Linked DNA regions of Homo sapiens. Changing the gene in region 2 together with the main gene of any one other region gives a genetic interaction. Each region holds a gene or a part of one and is shown on either strand. Other genes may lie near its edges. The genes, in order: ATG10, ATG2A and ATG7.

Evidence for each region.
Region 1: of ATG2A (region 2) and ATG10, changing one enhances a phenotype caused by changing the other (phenotypic enhancement), as found in Homo sapiens cells (one large-scale study listed by BioGRID).
Region 3: of ATG2A (region 2) and ATG7, changing one enhances a phenotype caused by changing the other (phenotypic enhancement), as found in Homo sapiens cells (one large-scale study listed by BioGRID).

Annotation. Positions count from the first base shown.
Region 1 is NC_000005.10:82,247,986-82,251,635, reverse strand, and holds part of ATG10 (ubiquitin-like-conjugating enzyme ATG10), read right to left. Parts: intron 1-3,650. UniProt on the Homo sapiens protein: E2-like enzyme involved in autophagy. Acts as an E2-like enzyme that catalyzes the conjugation of ATG12 to ATG5. ATG12 conjugation to ATG5 is required for autophagy. Likely serves as an ATG5-recognition molecule. Not involved in ATG12 conjugation to ATG3.
Region 2 is NC_000011.10:64,907,180-64,910,829, forward strand, and holds part of ATG2A (autophagy-related protein 2 homolog A), read right to left. Parts: coding exon 3,628-3,650; intron 3,530-3,627; coding exon 3,437-3,529; intron 3,017-3,436; coding exon 2,861-3,016; intron 2,746-2,860; coding exon 2,502-2,745; intron 2,189-2,501; coding exon 2,092-2,188; intron 1,972-2,091; coding exon 1,812-1,971; intron 712-1,811; coding exon 569-711; intron 486-568; coding exon 346-485; intron 261-345; coding exon 76-260; intron 1-75. UniProt on the Homo sapiens protein: Lipid transfer protein involved in autophagosome assembly. Tethers the edge of the isolation membrane (IM) to the endoplasmic reticulum (ER) and mediates direct lipid transfer from ER to IM for IM expansion.
Region 3 is NC_000003.12:11,278,747-11,282,396, reverse strand, and holds part of ATG7 (ubiquitin-like modifier-activating enzyme ATG7), read right to left. Parts: exon of another isoform or gene 3,577-3,650; intron 1,404-3,576; 5' UTR 1,295-1,403; intron 228-1,294; exon of another isoform or gene 205-227; 5' UTR 1-204. UniProt on the Homo sapiens protein: E1-like activating enzyme involved in the 2 ubiquitin-like systems required for cytoplasm to vacuole transport (Cvt) and autophagy.

The DNA.
Region 1 (3,650 bases), on a different chromosome or scaffold from region 2:
ACCTAAGGGGATAATGCCAGCTAAATACACCAGCAGATGACGGGGCCCGTGAGAAACTGCCGAGTGCACCCATCCAAGGCCATGCTGGCTACTCTGCTCCAGCCAACTGTCCCATGTGGGAATGCAGGTTCAGCATGCCAGACCTCCCTATTTGTGAAACTAACCTAGAAAAGCTGAAGTTTATGTTAAACCTCCTACATTTAAGTGTTGGCATAATTTATTTTTAAACATGGAGTGGGACAAGTAAAACAGGCTTGTAGGCTGGATTTAGACTAGGGGATGCCTAGTTTCTTCTCTTGGCTTCTTCTCTCAGCCAACCCAAGGGGAAGCTGAACTCAGAGCTGTTGATGGGATGAATTATGTGGCTGTCCTTGCTGCCTCTACCCCTCAGCTCCAAACATTCATGTCTGTATGCTTATGCACATATCCACTCACAAGAACTGGAAGGGACAATTCCTCTTGTATTGGTGACACTGGGTATGGAGATTTGGGGTGGTGGTGGTGAGGGATGAGTTATCCACTAGTGATAGGTTATTGCATGTATCTGGCATTTTTAGCACCACCTGGCATTTGTTTCTCCCTGAGTGCCATCTCCAGGTGACTCTGACCAGTCGCCTGATTCTTCCAGCAAGGCATCAGCTTCCTCTCTACAGCTCTCTTCCCAACCTTCATTCCCATCCCTAACTGGGCCCTGGGCTCAAAGCCCTGATGTGTTGGGCCTATGCCAAGTCCTCCTGTCCAACTTGAATCTGGTTTCCCTTACCTGCCTTAAACTAATATTTAGCAATTCAACATATATTAATCAATCATCTTTTTTATGTGTCTGCCAGAATACTTCTAGCTATAGTTATAGAGACCACTGCATCTCTTAGATAAACAATGTTCCTGATCCCATGGAACTTAGATTTCAGTGCAGGAGACAGCCAATAAACACACAGAACGAATAAATAAGATAATCCAGATAATTATAAGCCCTACAAAGGAAACACAACAGGGTAACATGATTCTGGAGGGATTGTGGTGACATTAGACTTGGAAAGGGAAGGCCTGAAGGAAGAGGTAATACAATGGACTGAATGTGTGTATCCCTCTTAGGGTTACACCCTAAGAGGTGTAACTCTCACTCTTTTCCTATCATGTGGGGATACAGTGAGAAGATGGCATCTATGAAATAGGAAACGGGTCCTCACCAGACACTGGATCTTCCAGTGCCCTCATCCTGGATCCTGTAGCCTTCAGAACTGGGAGAAATAAGTGTTGGTTCTTGAGCCACCCAGTCTATGGTATTTTTGTTATGACAGCCTAAATGGACTAAAATAAGGTGAAACTTAATCAAAGATCAGAACGACAAGGAAAAAAACAACCATGCAGAGATTTGGGAACAGAATGTGGGGGCAGATGACCCTATGGGGGAAATGAGCATAGAAAATATGCAGGAAAAATGCAAAAAAATTTAGAATTATCCTGGACTAAAACAATGACTGTTTAGAAAGCTGGGATTTAAAAAAGATAAATGTAGTCTAAATTCTTTTGGGATGACTTACATAGTTGCCAATGGAAGGAATAAAGAGGTATAATCCAATCTTATTGATGTAAAGTACATGTTGACTTTAATGAAATGAAACCTACAGTTACAAATTTCCACTAGACGGAAACACTCCTAATAGGGAGGATCAGTTCAATCACGCAGCCTCCACTCTCTCCAAGACTCACTTTCCCTTTGGCATCTCTTTCTTATCTAAGAGGTGGATAGGCACTTACAGTTCAGGGGACCATTTTCTTAGAGGAGTCTTAGGACCATGGCACACTGCAGCTCTGCTCATTTGATGCTGCTTTGTAAAGACATGGACTTTACTTCTATAAGTCATCTTTTTTTCATTCCACATAGCAAGTGGGTAAGCACATGCATGAGCTCTATGGTTAAGACTGTTTGAGATCAAGTCCTGCTCTACCACTTGGTAGCTGTGAGCTATTGGGAAAGTCACTTAACCATTTTACGTCTCTGTTTCCTCATCTGGTAACTGTGGCTAATGATAGTATCTGTCTCAGAGATTGACTGTGACCCTTCAATGAGATAATACCACAGAAGTACATAGAACAGTACCTGACACATAGCAGACACTTAGTTGGCTATTAGTATTTAACCCATTAATATCTAAACAGAAAAGAATAACAGCCAGACATTCAGAAAGTAGTCTTATGGTACCCTATAATAAAGCCAAATTTCAATCTAAAAATAGGACGTTCCTGTAAATTAAGTAGCATATTAAAAGCATCACTGACCAGTATCTAAGTGTTTAGGAATATTTGACAACTGTTTATAAGTGAAAGGAAGAAAGGTCTGAATTAGTAAAAGGTCTAGGTCTATATGGCAACTAGAACTATCACTATATTTGTATTCAGGTTTAAAACCAAATTAATGAAAAATAATTTAAATGAATTTAAATTAAAATAAAAGTTTAGGTACTTCAAAAACACTTCAGTAATCTACAACATTTTAATATTCATTTTTCCTCAAAGAACATAAAACAGTCATATTAGCATTTAAGGTTATGTTCTAATAGAATAAAATGCATGGCAATGTCATTTAAAACACTTTTTAAAATAATTGAGACTTTCATGCCTTTGAAGAGCTTTTAGAATAGCTTAAGCATTTCTTTAATGCAGGTTTGGCCATCTTTAAAAAATTCTTTATCCTTTACTATACTGAGACCTTATATTTATATAATTAAATAGAATATATTAAAATGAATGATGGTCTTTAAAAATTAAAAGTTTAAATTTATTAATAAATTGGATTTTAAAATAAAAATTATATTGTTTTGGCAAAATGCTTTTGGTTCAAAAGAATCAAGCCTATAATATGCTGATCAGCTTAAAATAGGAATTATAAGATATGTAATCTTTTAGAAGAATTTTATAAATTAATAACAACAGAAGTGGACTTCCAGCTGTGATAGAATAAAGAGGTCAGCAAATCCTCTCCCCAGAAATTAAATATAAAAATGAACAAAATTGTCAAAAACTAACCATTTTTGGGTCCTGGAAATCAACCAAGGGCAAATATAAAATCTGAGACGTGTTTAGTTCATGATAATCTGCTAAACTTCAAGTTAGAAACAGAGGGAATCTGAAGCCTTCTTGCCTGGAAGTACTTCCATATCCCCTCCTCCTCTTCCCCAATGTCCCCAGACACTCCATCAACAGAAGTTTTACCAGAGCAATCTGGCCATAAGAGCCAATAACTGTGTAGCCAGAGGGGCTGGCCTGATTTCCAACAGATAGCTAAAACTATTGCTCAGCAGCACTGTCAATAAAAATAGCAAAATAGGTACTAAATGAAAAGAAAAAAGCTGCAGCTCTGCTAGCCAGAGGTTGCAGTCCCAGTTGAGGCAAGCAGCAAACTACCAGTAATTTAATGGGGACATTCTGGAAATAAGACAGCCACAGAAGGGGTAGATAAGTTCTCCAGGCATCACTAGCTGATGGGAAGGGGATGTTCAGTGGAGTCACAAGAAGGCCTGATAGGAAGTAAGAGCTAAGGCCAATATGAATACTACTTGAGTTTTTAGCGTGTTCCCAATCCACGTACACATCCATTGGCAAAAGAAAAAAGCATTATAGGCTTGAGGTATTTGAGCATAATTTCT
Region 2 (3,650 bases):
TGCTCGCGCTGGTCTTGCTCTGCCGCCAATGGGAGCTCTGAAGTTTGGGGCCCGCCTGCCCGGGGCTGCACTCACCTTGGTCTCACAGAGGGCTGTGATCCGCCCCTTCAGCACTGTCACCAGTGTAGAGAAGGTGCTCTGCAAGTGAAGACTTGGGGCCTCAGGGGCAGCGGCCTGTGGGCCACCTGATGCCCCCACTGAGAAGAAGTGGGCATCCTCGTCATCCGAGTCCGAGTCTGGGGTGAGATCAAAGCAGTTGGCTGGGAAGGAGACCGCGAAGGGCTAGCCTGGCCCTTCCCAGACCTGGGGGTCCTCCCTCTAGCCCAGCGTTAGCACCTCTCATACCCAGCTTGAAGGCTGACTTGCACATCTTAAAGCTGTCGTGCCAGAAGCCTGAGGGGCCGGGGAAGCCCGAGGGCTGGGCGGCGGGGTCGGGGGTGGGAAGCAGATCTGCAGGCTCCCACATGAGCAGGTCGTTGTTGATCCTGAGATAGGCGGGTGGACAGCAGGTAAGGGAGGCCAGGCCCACCCAGTGTCCAGTCCCGCCCTGCTGGCCCCGGGTCTCCACCTGTTGTAGATGCTCTCGTAGACCTCCTTGCTGGGCAGAAAGATGTGGACACTGGGCAGGATCACTTCCAGGCTGCAGCGGGACAGTGCCAGGGTCCGGCTCTGGAACGTCCTCATCTCCTCAGGGTCTCCAGGGATCACCATCTGGACAGGGTGAGGTGGAAAGAGCAGGAGAGTCATCTTAGAGACGCTGGCTGGGGCCTGTCTCTGGTCTCAGTCCTGCCCTCCTGTCGTTCATCATTCATTCATTCATAGGAGCCCTTCTCTACTGGGGATGCATGATAGCCGTACAGATACAGTGCTGATGGCACACCTGTGCTGTTCTAAGGGCTTCAGGTATGTTAACTTCTTTCATCCTCACAACAGGCCTGTGACACAGGTTATGGTTAGGCTGGGCGCGGTGGCTCACGCCTGTAATCCTAGCACTTTGGGAGAGTGAGGAGGGCAGATCACTTGAGGTCAGGAGTTCGAGACCAGCCTGGCCAACACGGTGAAACCCTGTCTCTACTAAAAATACAAAATTAGGCCAGGTGCGGTGGCTCATGCCTATAATCCCAGCACTTTGGGAGGCTGAGGTGGGTGATCATTTGAGGTCAGGAGTTAGAGGCCAGTCTGGCCAACATGATGAAACCCCGTCTCTACTAAAAATATAAAAATTAGCCGGGCGTGGTGGCACGCGCCTGTAATCCCGGCTACTCAGGAGGCTGAGGCAGGAGAATCGCTTGAGCCTGGGAGGCGGAGGTTGCGGTGAGCCGAGATCATGCCACTGCACTCCAGCCTCGGCGACACAGCAAAACTCTATCTCAAAAAAAAAAGAAAAAAAAAGAGAGAAAGACAGGTCATGGTGCCCATTTTCCAGGGGAAGAAACTCATCTATAGGTAACTCTTCAAGGTCAGATAACTCCCCAGGGTGATGACACAGTCACCAAGTGGCAGAGCCTGGCCCTTAACTGCCTTTCTAAGTGTACAGTGCTGATCCACGGGTCAGGTGGGGCAGGACCTGATCTTTCCAATCGAGGACCCATGCTCCCCAGGGGCCTGCCCTCACCAGTGCCGTTTCAGAAAGACTCTCTGACTGGCTGGAAAGAATGGAAGAGCCGAAATCCTCACTGGTGTTGGGTCAGCTCATGCCCACCCCAGGTGGTCGTGCTGCCCTGGCCCACAGCCACACAGGTGGCTCCTACGGCAGGAACCCGGGCGGTGGGCGGGAGGGGGTCCTGGGAAGAGGTGGGGCCAAGTCTCACCTCCTCTGTCTCATACATGGTCCTCTTAGAGGAGAAGGGCGAGGGCTCAGGTTCCCGCAGCTCACAGGGACTCTCCACTGACAGCTCCAGTTCCTCTCCCTTCTCCGGGGCCACCTCCCACTGTGTGCTGCTGGACTGGGGGTTCACAGTCACCACTACCCTGCCGGGGCACAGGCCTGTTACTGGCCTGCAGGGCCCCCGGCACCCAGTTCCAAACTGGCCCCCTGCCACCCCCAGCAGAACCCTCCTCTCCTGGGCCCAGTCCAGAGCCCCTACTTACTGGGGCAGGAAGTACTTGCGCCCAGTGCTCTTGGGGTCCAGGGCTTTGGAGACACGCAGGCAAGGGACAGGTGGCTTCCCTCCATCTTCATAGATACCTGGAGGGGGATGGGGAATTAGGGGGGTCATCACTGCTGCCTTTTCCTATTTCTTCCCCAATGCCCAGGTCGGCTCAGAGCTGTGCCCCCGACTCCACACACACCTTGGTGGGCAGAGAAAGCCAGAGACAAAGGGTCCACCCTACTTGTCGGTGAGGAGGCCGGGGACAGGCAGTGCTGGGACCCCAAGAGCTGGTAAAGGCCTGGGCCAGGGACTGCTCGGGTTGTGACTGGGCCCCTTCCATAGCCCCAAGCCCATCTCTCCCAGAAGCCAGGCCTCTTGCCCCAAGTTCTGTCACTCGGGGGCTCTCACCATGTAGGTCGGAGCAGGTGAGTTCCAGGTGGGTGGGGACTGGGGGACCAGGCCCACTGCTAAGCTCTGACCGGAACTGGGGCTCACTCAGCTCCAGCCGAAGCTGCTCAGCCCGCACGGCCTGGCCCGCCCAGGGGTCCGGCTCAGGCCGCAGGTCGGCAATGGGGAAGCGCAGCCGCAGCGTGGCCCGGGGTGCAGAGAGCCGAAATACCGTCTGCTGCTCCATCGCCGGCAGGGGCTCTGTCTGCAGGAGGATTGGGGGTCAGAGCAGCCGTCGGAGCCCCTCCCACTGTGACCAAGAGCCGAAGGACCCAGGCCCTGCACCCACCCCCGGCCTGGCCCTGGCAGGGGCCTCTCACCAGCAGGCCGGCTGGAGGCTCAGCAGGTACGGTGGCCAGGCGCAGTAGGGCGGCCAGCCGGTCCAGGGCCCCCAGCTCCACGTCCGCCTGGAAGTTGGCCAGGTCCAGGGCCAGTTCTGAGTGGCAATGGCAGGCAACTGAGCGCCGGGGTCGGCTCTGAGGGCGAGGGCGTTCAGGTCAGTGAGGGCTGAGTGGTACTCAGCGGGTGGGACAGGAAGGCCCTCTCTGGTAGTGGGAGAAGAGCTGGGGCAGGGGCCACGAGAGCACTAAGAAGGCCTGCCCCACCTTTGCCCGACGCGCACAATGTGCTTGTTTACTTATAAAAGCCACCCGACATGCGCCACTCTTAGCAACAGAGGCCAGCCAGGGGGCCATATTGAGATAGGGCAAGGGCATGACCAGGCTCAGAGACTGGCATAGGAAGGGCCAGGCAGGTATTTGAGGGCCCCAGCATGGAGAGATGTGGAGCACAGGGGAAGAGGGACAGGGCTGGGCAGCAGAGGAGGCCCTGGCAGAGGCCAGGGTGGGGTCAACACGCCATGGGGACAGCCTGGTGGCCTGGAGCGGGTGGGTTACCTTAGGCACACGGCGCAGGATCTGTGTGTGGCGCAGATGGGCGCAGGGCCGAGCTGAGGCCTGGGAGCCCAGCGTACCAGGAAAGGTCAGGATCTGGGATGGGACCCGGGAGGCACACAGGGTCAGGCCTGGCCCCACAGCCACCCAAACCTCCAGACCCCGCCTCGTACACATTCTGCCTCTGCCCTCACCTCCGTGTACTCAGGCTCAGAGG
Region 3 (3,650 bases), on a different chromosome or scaffold from region 2:
GTCAACCAGGGAACAAGCAGTCACATCCACAGTCTTCAAACTCTTATCTGTCCTTCTCATTGGTTACTTCCAGGAGCTGTTTTTCTTTTATTTTGGTTTCCTTCTGCTATAATATCCTTCACCTTCACATGCAATCTGGTGTCCATCAGCTTCAGTTTTTGAGAACGGATGCACTGGATACCAGCATTATGGGGTTTGAGAAGCCTACATGGGAGGGACAGTGACAGCTGAGAAAATGTGGGAAAGAGGAGAGAGGAAGCAATAATGCCAGGAAGATGGAGGGCAGTGTGCCTCCTTCTGAGTCCTTTTGTTACCTCCACTGATCAACAGTGTTGCCCATTTCTCTGTTCATCTGAGAGACACCCACCTGGATTTGTCTAAATCACTGTGGAGCCCTATGCCAACCAACAACTAAAATCTATGATGGTTTCCTAAAAGCTGGCTGAGTTATGAAGGCTTGCTTCTAAATAATTACATCTCTGTGGTTTTCATTTCTGGTATGTTTAAAGAATCCTGAGAAACGGGAGAAGTACTTTAAAACTGGGCCAAGCAAAGGCCTGATTTCCGATTTTCAAAATGTTTGATTTTTCTTTGTTTCTTTTCTCTTTTTTTTTTTTTTTTTGAGATGGAGTTTCGCTCTTGTTGCCCAGGTTAGAGTGCAATGGCACGATCTCGGCTCACTGCAACCTCTGCCTCCCACGTTCAAGCAATTCTCCTGCCTCAGCCTCCCAAGTAGCTGGGATTATGGGCGCCCGCCACTACGCCCAGGTAATTTTTTGTATTTTTAGTAGAGATAGGGTTTCACTATATTGGCCAGGCTGGTTTCGAACTCCTGACCTCAGGTGATCCACCTGCCTCAGCCTCCCAAAGTACTGGGATTATAGGCGTGAGCCACCACACCCGGCCTGATTTTTCAAAGATAAGAATAAAGATGGGTTCTAAAGACCACTGGACAGAAGTTTTGCTCCCAGGAAAGGCCCATATGGGCCACTCTAGTCCACTTAGCACCTTTGTACAATCAGAAAATTACACCTCTGCTTCAAGATTTTACTTCCTTTAGTTAGAGAAATGTTGTAATATACTGATTAGATTAGCTCAAGACATGGTAGCCTTCTCTGCCACTGTCATTACAAAAATGCACCCATGATACCTATGATATAAATGGAACCCCCTTTGATGTGGCCTCTTGTGCAGTGCACAGCCTGCATAACTGTATGAGGCAGCCCTAAGTAATCACAAGAGGCCAATATGGTTTCTCTAAGAAAAAGTCATGACAGAGTAACTGCATTCCTACCTTGATCAGGGAAGAATCATAGACGCAGGACATACAGGTCTCAGAAATGTCTCTCACAAGGCTGCTCTAGAAATCCCGGTAGACAAGGTGAAGATACAGGAATTGGATCCTGACATAATTAGAGGGATTAAGAACTGGTAAAATAATCTTATTCAAAGGATCTTGGTTACTGAATTAATTAATGTTAATTAGAAAGGAGCTAATAGCAGTACGTCTTTGGCTTAGTCTCTGGGCCTGTCCAATTTATTTTATTTATCCACATGAATGAATATTTATCAACATTTACTAAGTATTTCATGTGCACTGAACCCTGTGCTGGGGCTAAGAGCAGGGGGAATAGGCAAATAAACATATTCAATAAAGTATTCTTATTACCATATTTTACCAATAACTTGGATAATGATATAGATTTGCTTATCAATTTCATGACAAAAGAAGAAACAGGCAATACAAGTGACTAAAATTCAGGATAAAAAAAGATTCCAACCATCTGGAATGGCAGGCCTATTTTAACAAGATTTGAAATTTCATAGAGGTAAATCTAGGGCCCTAAATCTAAGTTCAAGAAAACAACTGGACAAGGCAGATGGTCTGCTAGACTGGAAAGGGCATAGGTTCATGAGCCAGAGAGACCTGAGTTCAAATCCTGTCTCTGCTACTTTCTAGCCACACCACCTTGGACAAGTCATTCAACTTCTCCGAGTCTGTTTCCTCTTCTGTTAGATGGGGATACCACCTACTGTGCAGAATTAGTGTGAAGATTCAACTAGAAAATGCATACATCTGGCCCATAGGAGACACTCAAAAAGCAGGACTAATATCATATTGTTTACCAATAACATGCCCGGCCAACATGGCGAAATCCCGTCTCTACTAAAAATACAAAAAAAGGGCCGGGCATGGTGGCAGGCGCCTGTAATCCCAGCTACTCGGAAGGCTGAAGCTTGAGAATTGCTTGAACCCGGGAGGCGCAGGTTGCAGTCAGCTGAGATAGCACTACTGCACTCCAGCCTGGGTGACACAGCAAGACTCTGTCTCAAAAAAAAAAAAGAAAAGAAAAGAAATGAAATTGGGGCTTCCATTAGTTATTTCTTCAATAAACAGTTATGTTACATACTTGTCCCTGTGCTACATTTCAGGGTTCAATGGCAAAAAAAAAAAAAACTATGGTCCCCACCTTTAAAGAGCTAACAATTTTGAAGCCAAAACAGACAACAAAACAGAAGAGGAATCGGAGTATAGCAATTTGGAGGTAAAACAAATACAGTATAGCCTGGCGTTTGTACAGAATGTTATAGGAGGAGGGATATCTAAATTAGACTGATGAGGCAACAGTGTTTCCTATAGAAACCCTTAAGCCAAGGTGGGGTTTTTTTGTTTGTTTGCTTTTTATTTTTTGTTTTTTGAGACGGAGTCTTGAGACAGAGTCTTGCTCTGTCACCCAGGCTGGAGGGAGGTGGCTCAATTTCGGCTTCACTGCAACCTCTGCCTCCCGGGTTCAAGCGATTCTCCTGCCTTAGCCTCCTGAGTAGCTGGGATTACAGGCACCCGCCACCATGCCTGGCTAATTTTTGTATTTTTAGTAGAGACAAGGTTTCACTATGTTGGTCAGGTTGGTCTCGAACTCCTGACCTTGTGATCCACCCGCCTCGGCCTCCCAAAGTGCTGGGATTACAGGCGTGAGCCACCACACCCAGCCAAGCCAAGGTTTTAAGAATATCCTATAGAAACCCTTAACCCAAGGTTTTAAGAACATCCAAGTAGATTCTCAACAGGGGCCCTACTGGCATGCTGGATGGAACAATTCTTTTTTGTTTAGAGCTATCCCTGCACACTGCAGAATGTTGAGCATCTCTGGCTCTCTCTCAATAAATGCAGTAATGCCCTCTGGTCAATGTCACAAAACAAAGCAAAATAAAACAGCTCCACAAACTTCTAAACCCACCCCTGATGGTTGAGAAAGGGAGGGTTAGATGACAGCACTAGCCCCATGCAAGGACCCCTGGATGAGGAGGCTAGAGGTAGGGAGTGGGGACTCTCCAGGCAAAGGGAGGAAGCTGACTCAGCTCCACATCATCAGCTGCAGAAACACCCCATGGCCTCTGCATAAGCTTAGAATTTTCTTGGCCACCTCCACATACCCATCATCTAGTGAATTTCTTTGCTCACTTCAAATCACAGCTCAATCATCACTTCTGAGGGAAGCCTTCCCTGACTCCCTCAGCTCTGGATTAGGTCGATCCTCCTGTATTCTAGTCCTCAAAGAGCACCAACTACCTTACCTTCATAGCACGTATGCAGTTATCCTCCTCAGTAGAATAAAAATTCTATGAGAAAGGAACCATGTCAGCTTCTC